Homo sapiens: one gene and its partner. The protein of the gene in region 1 purifies or fractionates together with the protein of each later gene. This does not show direct contact. Each region holds a gene or a part of one and is shown on either strand. Other genes may lie near its edges.

What was found.
Region 2: the proteins of NPAS3 (region 1) and ABCC12 purify together in Homo sapiens (affinity purification with mass spectrometry; one large-scale study listed by BioGRID and IntAct). This does not show direct contact.

What each region holds. Positions count from the first base shown.
Region 1 is NC_000014.9:32,937,421-32,941,956, forward strand, and holds the start of NPAS3 (neuronal PAS domain-containing protein 3), read left to right. Parts: upstream 1-1,458; 5' UTR 1,459-1,896; coding exon 1,897-1,946; intron 1,947-4,536.
Region 2 is NC_000016.10:48,080,181-48,083,106, reverse strand, and holds the end of ABCC12 (ATP-binding cassette sub-family C member 12), read left to right. Parts: 3' UTR 1-2,225; downstream 2,226-2,926. UniProt on the Homo sapiens protein: Probable transporter, its substrate specificity is unknown.

The DNA of each region.
Region 1 (4,536 bases):
GGCAGAAACCCCCTAGACTGGGTGTCCTGGAGCCAAAACTTTGAACTGGCAACTTTTTCCCTTCTCTGCCAGCCCATGTATATCTTGTCCATAACACTCTCCACTCCAGTTCATTTCTCATTCTCTCCTACCTGTAGAGTGTACTCCAAAGAGAACTTAAACACCATCATGCAGATTAAACACCTCTACCACGAAAAACATTTATGTGTTCCTTTGGAAGTTTCCAACTCCCAGCCCTACTTTACTGGAGTCGTAGAGACCGAATGGAGGACCCCTTTTCAGGTCTTTATTTTTTTCTTAAGCTTAAAGTCAAATGCAGAACCTCACACAGGACTGATGTTTTCCATCAGGCGCTTTCATTCATTCAAAGTGGAAATGCTTTGGGAGTCCTTTCTACTTGCCTGGTTGACACATGACTGACCCAAGTCTCTGCGTAAAAAGCTGTCCACACGCTTCTGATTGGTTTAGTGGAGAAAACGCTCTGACCAGGGTCTACCCAGGTAACAGGATTCTAGCCCGGGCCCTGCACTGAGTAGCCAGCCTTTCTCTAGGCCTTGCTGAACTGTCAAACCGGGGTGCGGCTGGGCTAGATCCCAGAGGGTGGCAGTCCGGTCCCAAGTCCCGGGACCCGAGTCGGGAGGGGCTTCTGTATGTGAGTTTAAACGCGCGGGGATTCACCTGTGAACCCTGGGGTCTGCACTCCTGTACGTCCGTGACTGATGCAGATGCTCCGGCTTTGGGAACGCTGCTGAGAGCGCCAGAGCCACAAGGTGCTTGTGCTGCTGCTGCACCGCCCACGGGGCTCTTGGGCCCATCTGCTTGGGCCAGCGCACCCCCCATCCGTATTGATTTCCGCTGCCCCCAAGGAGCTCCCGGGACTGTGTCCTGCCCCAGCTCGCTCCTGTGGCCTCCCAGTTCCTTTTTCTGTTTCTTTCTTTCCTCCTGGCTGCAATACTCCAGAGAAGGGAAGTGTTTGAAACTGCAACTGAGTGGCGTTGTTGCGCCGGCAGCCGAGCCTCCCAGTCCCCCAACGAGAAAGAGAGAGAGAGAGAGAGAGAGAGAAATTGAGAGAGAGAGAGAGAGAGAGAGAGAGAGAGAGAGAGAAGGGGGGGGAGGTGTGTGTCTGCGTACGAGAGAGCGCTCTGGAGCAAAGCAGCTGGAAAATGCCCAGAAATACTTTCACAGCGGTCAAGCTGGAACCCCCCGCGTGTCCTCCCCCTTCCCGCTCCTCCCGGCCTAGACCCCGCGCCCCCCGCAGGGAGGGTGTGCGCCCCACCTGCCACCGGGCTGCTCCGGGTGGTAGAAAGGGGTGACGGGGGACGGGGGCGGGGGCGGGTGGCGGCGCGGGGGTGAGAACCCGGAGGCGGCGGGGCCCTGGGCCGGGCTGCCCGCGGGACCGCGCGGCCGCCTCCCCCCGCCGCCGCCGCCGCCTCCCCCTCCTCCTCCTCCGCCGCCGCCGCCGGTCGCCTGTCTCCGCGCCGGGCATGCCTCGGGAGCCGGGGCGGCCCGGGCCGCGGGCGCTCTGCGGCGCATGGACGGCGGCGGCGCCGGGCGAGCAGCGGGAGGAGAAGGCGCAGGCGGCGGCGGAAGCGGCGACCCACGGCTGGGAGCACCGGCGGCGCGAGGGGACGGCCGGCCGCCCGCGAGGCTCCGGCCCCACTACTTTTCCGTAGCCTCCCCACCTCAGCAGCACGGCCGCCGCCGCCGCCGCCGCCGCCGCCACGGCCACGGCCACGGCCCCGGCCCCGGCCACCGCCCGCCGGGCAGCCCAGAGCGCCGCGCACGGCCGCACTCTCCCGCCACCCCACGCACACGCACACCCCCGCCCGCCCACGCCCCCCACCCGGGAGGGGGGAGAGAGGCAAAAAGTAAGAGAGGAAAAAAAATAGCAGGAAGATGGCGCCCACCAAGCCCAGCTTTCAGCAGGATCCTTCCAGGCGAGAACGGTAACACTTTTCTGTTTATTGAACCTGCCGCCGGGCCGCTGCTCCCGCCGCCGCCGCCTCCGCCGCCGAGGGCCCCTCTCCGCAGCCCGCCCGCCTCCTGGGCCGCGAGCCCGCGGGGACCTCGTCTGGGCGCAGCGCTCGCCCGGGGCCCCGCGCATTGTCCCCGCGGCGGCTGCGGCAGCGAGAGGCTCTGGCGGCGGCCGGGCTCTCTGAGCAGTCGCACCTCCTCGGCTCGGCGAATAGAGTGACTCACTGACAAAAAAAAAAAAAAAAAGAAGAAAGAAACAGAAAAGAGAAAAAGAAAAAGAAACAAACAGATGCGAAGGCGCTGCCGTGTGACGGGAGCAGCAGCGAGGGTGGGGGGCCGGGGATCCCCGGGGCCGCCGCAGGTCCCCTAGCAGCTGCTCTCGAGGAAGGGAATGAGGCTGGGGAGGGGGAGGGAAGGCGGCGAGCAGGGGGAGGAGGCGAGGAGCAGGAGGAGGAGGCCGGGGGCGGGGAGCGCGGAGCTCGCGCCAGGCCCGGAATGTGTCGCGGAGGGGCCGGCTCCGTCTCCGCGCGAGCAGCTAGGCCGGGCCGAGCCCAGAGGAGCGCGGCCGCCGCCTCCCTGCCTCCCGGGCTGCGCCCTCCGCTCGGCAACTTGTGGGTCTCCCGCTCTGCCCTCCGCTCTCATCTTCCCCTCCTCTCCATACCCCTCCCAAAGGAAAAAGAAAAATAAAGAAGAAAACCCTCAAATCCAAATAAGCAAACAAACAGCGAGATCCAAAATGTGTCAGCAGTTGGAGCATCTATGCCCCGTTAGTTACTGTTTGGGGATCTGTGTTTTAAAAAGTTCCTGGTGAGAATTGCATATCCAAGCAAGGGGCTCAGTCGAGCATGTCTATTTGAAGTTAGTTAAACTAGTACAGCCACAGGGAAAGGGAGTTTGTGTTCAAAATACCCGTAACTGTTCTACGTGAGTAGCATTGATAGATTTTCAGAGTAACTCAGCACCCCCTCCCCATCACCACCAACGTGGTTTTCCCTCCTGCTGTCCACCCAGCCTACTTTCTTTGGAATCCTATTTACTATTAATTGGCAACGTTAATGACATTAATTGCATATAGCATATTGGTTTGAGCAAAGTGGATATCTCTTTCTGTCTCCGAAGAGGAAAGGCGCAGTAGGAAGTATGAAACGTCACCCACTGATTCATGAGGAAAACAAATACAGTAAGATATATGCACCCCCACCCGCAGCAGGCGCGTTGATTTTCCTCACAGGCTTAAGTGAACTTGAAAAGAAGACAAAGGATGTGCTTAGTTGCAAGATTTAATTATTATAACATAGTTTTATTTTTGATGCAACATAATATTTAACCTATAGCTTACATCAGAAGACGATAAGGGGATATTCAGACATCCATTCATTTAAAAGGCTTCTATTGTACTGTTGCTTATTTCTTTCATACGATAGGGAAGGCACAATTGTCAGGATTAAGGAAATACTTTTGTTAAGTAGATACATAATTGACTAATTCTGAACTCTAGATGATTCTGTAAACATCATATATCAGAGAGTAAATCATACATAATCCAGTTTTTAAAGATGTTAAATGTGTATAGCATTAACTATTGCTCCCAAACTGTAGAAAATCTGACAACTCATACAGCTAAAATGAGTATTTACTTCTTAAGAAGTATCAGTGTTTCATGAAGAATTCACACTTTACTCTTGTAGTAGAAAAAATAATTTCTCAGAGCATTGTGCAAGGATTTTAAAAATTATTTTTTATCTAACATGAAGATGAATACTTTTTGAAATCTGAGGTTTATAATTGGTTTTCTTCCCCCTCCCCTCCCCTCCCCTTCCCTCCTCCCTCCCTCCCTTCCCCTCCTCCCTCCTTTCCCCTCCTCCCTCCTTCCCCTCCCCTCCTCCCTCCCTCCCTCCCTCCCTCCCTCCCTCCCTCCTTCCTTCCTTCCTTCCTTCCTTCCTTCCTTCCTTCCTTCTTCCCAGTTCTGTTGTTAATAAATATGTTTACTGGGATGGCCCCAGTAATCTCTCTAGCAAAGGCCTATTCGTGTGCCATTTTAGGAATTTCTCTGAGATAAGAATCTCGGAGATAGAATTAATTTCTAGGGGAAACTTCATAGCCTGTGCATGAGTGCGTTCTTTATCACCTGTCTCCATTTGGCATTCGAAGAAGGTAAATCAAAGTGTGCGATTTGTTATTCTGCTCCACTTGAGAGCTGAACTAAATAACACTTGGTCTGAAATTCTGATTGAAGTTGTAGGAGGATATACTGTATTTAATTTAATGCCCTTTAATAGCATCTTCTTGTTCAGCTTGGATGCTGTCATTTTAAAGGTTGGATCTGAGAAGGTTTAACCTGTATGGAGAAGGAGGAGTAATAACAGCGGGGTGGGGGCAGGAGCACTGTGGAAGATAGGAAGGAAGGAGTTATAAACTAAACCTTTCAAAAGGCAACAACCGCAAACTTGGTCCCTTATCCAAACAGTTGTTTTATGCCCCAAGGGTTCACTTTGTTGTCAGGGTTTTAAATGCTCTTAACACTTTAAGTGTAAACATTACACATGTAAGTTGATTTGGCTT
Region 2 (2,926 bases), on another chromosome or scaffold:
AAATGACACTTTTATATCTTCTTTATTCGTCGTTAAAACGCGGTAGGAAATTACCCTGAAATGTCGCCTTGCAATTATTTCACTGAAGATATTCCAATTTCCATACTATTTCCTCCAATAGACCCTTGTTGCCTTCTCCCTTCACTCAGTAATGAACCTTCACAGTCGCTTACCAAACAAAAAGCTTTCTCTCCAACCTGGAGGCTGGTTCTGATGGAAGCAGTAAAGATGTATTCCCAGCAGCCCCAGGAGTGAGCGCTGCTAACTCATGGTGACATTTGGGAAAAAAATATTTATAGAAAATCCAGCAAGCTCTTGTGTAGTAGCCGCCAAGGGGCACGCTGGGAGTTCTGGCTGTTTTTCATTCATCAGGAATGAAGGCCCCATGAGGTTCCCTGGGCCTGCTTTCCAGGCCCCAGGCTGAGCTCTAAATGTAGCTCAGGGCAGTGTGGTCAGCAAAGCTTCCAGACCACAACCCCCCACCCCACTTCCCTTGTAAGTGTTGGTCACGTACTTGCTTCCCCAGACGTGGAGGAAGGAGTGCCTGGCACCTGGAAGCACTCGGGAAACACTTGTGGCAGCCATGAATGACAGCATCTAATGAACTCGCTGAAACACAGCTGTGGAGCCTGGCGGACACCCCTCCCAGGTGTGTGTGCATGTTAAGAGCTTAATCTGGATTTCTGGCCAAAAAGCCAACAGCCAGCAATTCAAGGGCTGGGCATGTGAGGTTAACCTCCAACCGATTATTCTCCAGCCCTCCTCCGGCCAGGCCTGGGCAGGGGTCTACCCAACCAGCGGGGAGGTGAGCACACCTGGCCTTAGGTAGAGCTTATAACCTGGCAACTGCATGAAAGCCCTGGCCCAGCAGCTTGGCAGCAATGGATCCTGCCCTCAGCAGAGGGTGCACTAAGACATGTGGCTGAGAAGGACGTGAGCCAGGGGGTTCCTTCTGTGGGCAGCTCCAGGCCAAGTGTGGATCTCTCTGTGAAGGGACACAGTGTATCTTTGCCTGATCTGAGCTTTCCCCCATGGTGCATGACCCTGACTGAAGGTCATTAAACCCACATCCACAGCGTTCTGAGCAGCTGCTCCCAGCTGAGTGTGGGCATCACCTTTATGGACATAAGATAACTTCCCCAATATGACAAGCAGACTGGGCAGTCTGTGCTGGCCATGGGAATCCATGACAGTTGTGCAATGTCAGGGAGGGATGCTTTACTTTCTACCAACTGGACACCAGCCAGATAATCAGTCTGTGATTTCAAGAGGTGGTGTTTTCATGAGGACAGAGGATAGACTACAATGATCCCTGCTGCTCCTTCAGATGCATTGAGAGATGAATCACCTCCTATGACTCCTTTTCTGCCCACACTCGCTTTGGTTTACTCTGGCAGAAGAAGAACACCGACATTGATCCTGATGTCTACTGAGACCTTGCAGTGTGCCAGGACTGTGACAAGCATTTTTTCCATGAATTATTTCACTGAATCCTCATCTCACCCCATGAGATGGGATTTGAGGCTCACTGAGGTTAGTAACTTATCTACAGATGCCCAGGAAGGAAGGGACAGAGATAGGGCTTGAACCCTAACCAGTCTGGCTCCACAGGCCCTGCTCCCAACCCCTTCACAACAAAGCCCCTCCAGTCCTTTCCCCTTGGCCTGTTGCAAGGACAGTGATGGTCATCAGTATCATCCCTGGGGGAGAGTGACTTCTGAGGGTTTGGCTGTTTGCATGTATAAGACACGAAACCATCTTAGCAAACCCCTCTCCCACCCCAACCCCTTGCTATCACTGCCATGTCAGCCAAGGGGAGACTATGTAGAATAATAGTAGCCATTTAGCCAAATTCCTCAAAGCACAGGCTTAGGTTATTAAATCCTGAACATATCCCTGTGGGGTAGGTGTCTGCTATGATCTGAACATTGTGTTCCCCCAAAATCCTCCTGTTGAAACATAATCCTCAGTGTGACAGTATAGAGGTAGGGCCTTTAGGAGGTGATTAATTAGGTCATGAGGGTGGAGACCTCATGAATAGGATTGGCTCTCTTATAAAAGAGACTTGGGGAAGCTTGTTCACCCCTTCCTCCATGTGAGGACACATAGAAGGCATCATCTGTGAGGAATGGGCCCTCACTCAACACCAAATCTGTTGGCACCTCGACCATGGATTTCCCAGCGTCCAGAACTGTGAGCAATAAATTTCTGTTGTTTATAAATTACTCAGTCTAAGATATTTTATTATATCAGCCTGAATAGACTAACACAGTACAAGTGTTATCCTTATATTACTGATGAGGAAACTGAGGCATCAAGAAAGTAACTTGACCAAGGTTAGCCACTGGTGAGATTTGAATCCAGGCAGGTTGACTCTAAAAAGTGTGCTCCTCCAGGAGTATGAGACCAGCCTGGGCAACAAAGTGAGACCTCGTCACTACAGAAATACATACAATAAAAATAAAACATGTGCTGTTAAATTCCATGCAACACTGCTAGAAATGCAATCCTCCTGGTGAGAAAGAGCAGTGCCTGTGTTGTAAAGCCTGAGTACTGGTCTGGGTAGACTCAGTTATGCTGCAGTAACAAAAGACCCCAGACCACACTGGCTTATTTCTTGCTTATGTGACACATCCATCACAGGTGAGCTGTGACTGTGCTTATCCTCTTCACTCTGTGACCCAGCGGAGCAGAGCAGTCTCTGCCAGGAACATCATGTTTTGTGGTAGAGGGCAGGCAGACATGGCAATCGGAAGTGATACATGCTACTTTCATCCACATTTCATGGGCAAAACAAATTGCCTGGCTGCTCCTGAGTTCAACAGTGTGGGTAGTGGTGGTGGTATATACCCTACTCCACAGGGAGGGCCACCATAAGGCACAAGGACCAAGCTTATTCCAGCAGGAGTTGTATAAGCTTCCTCTT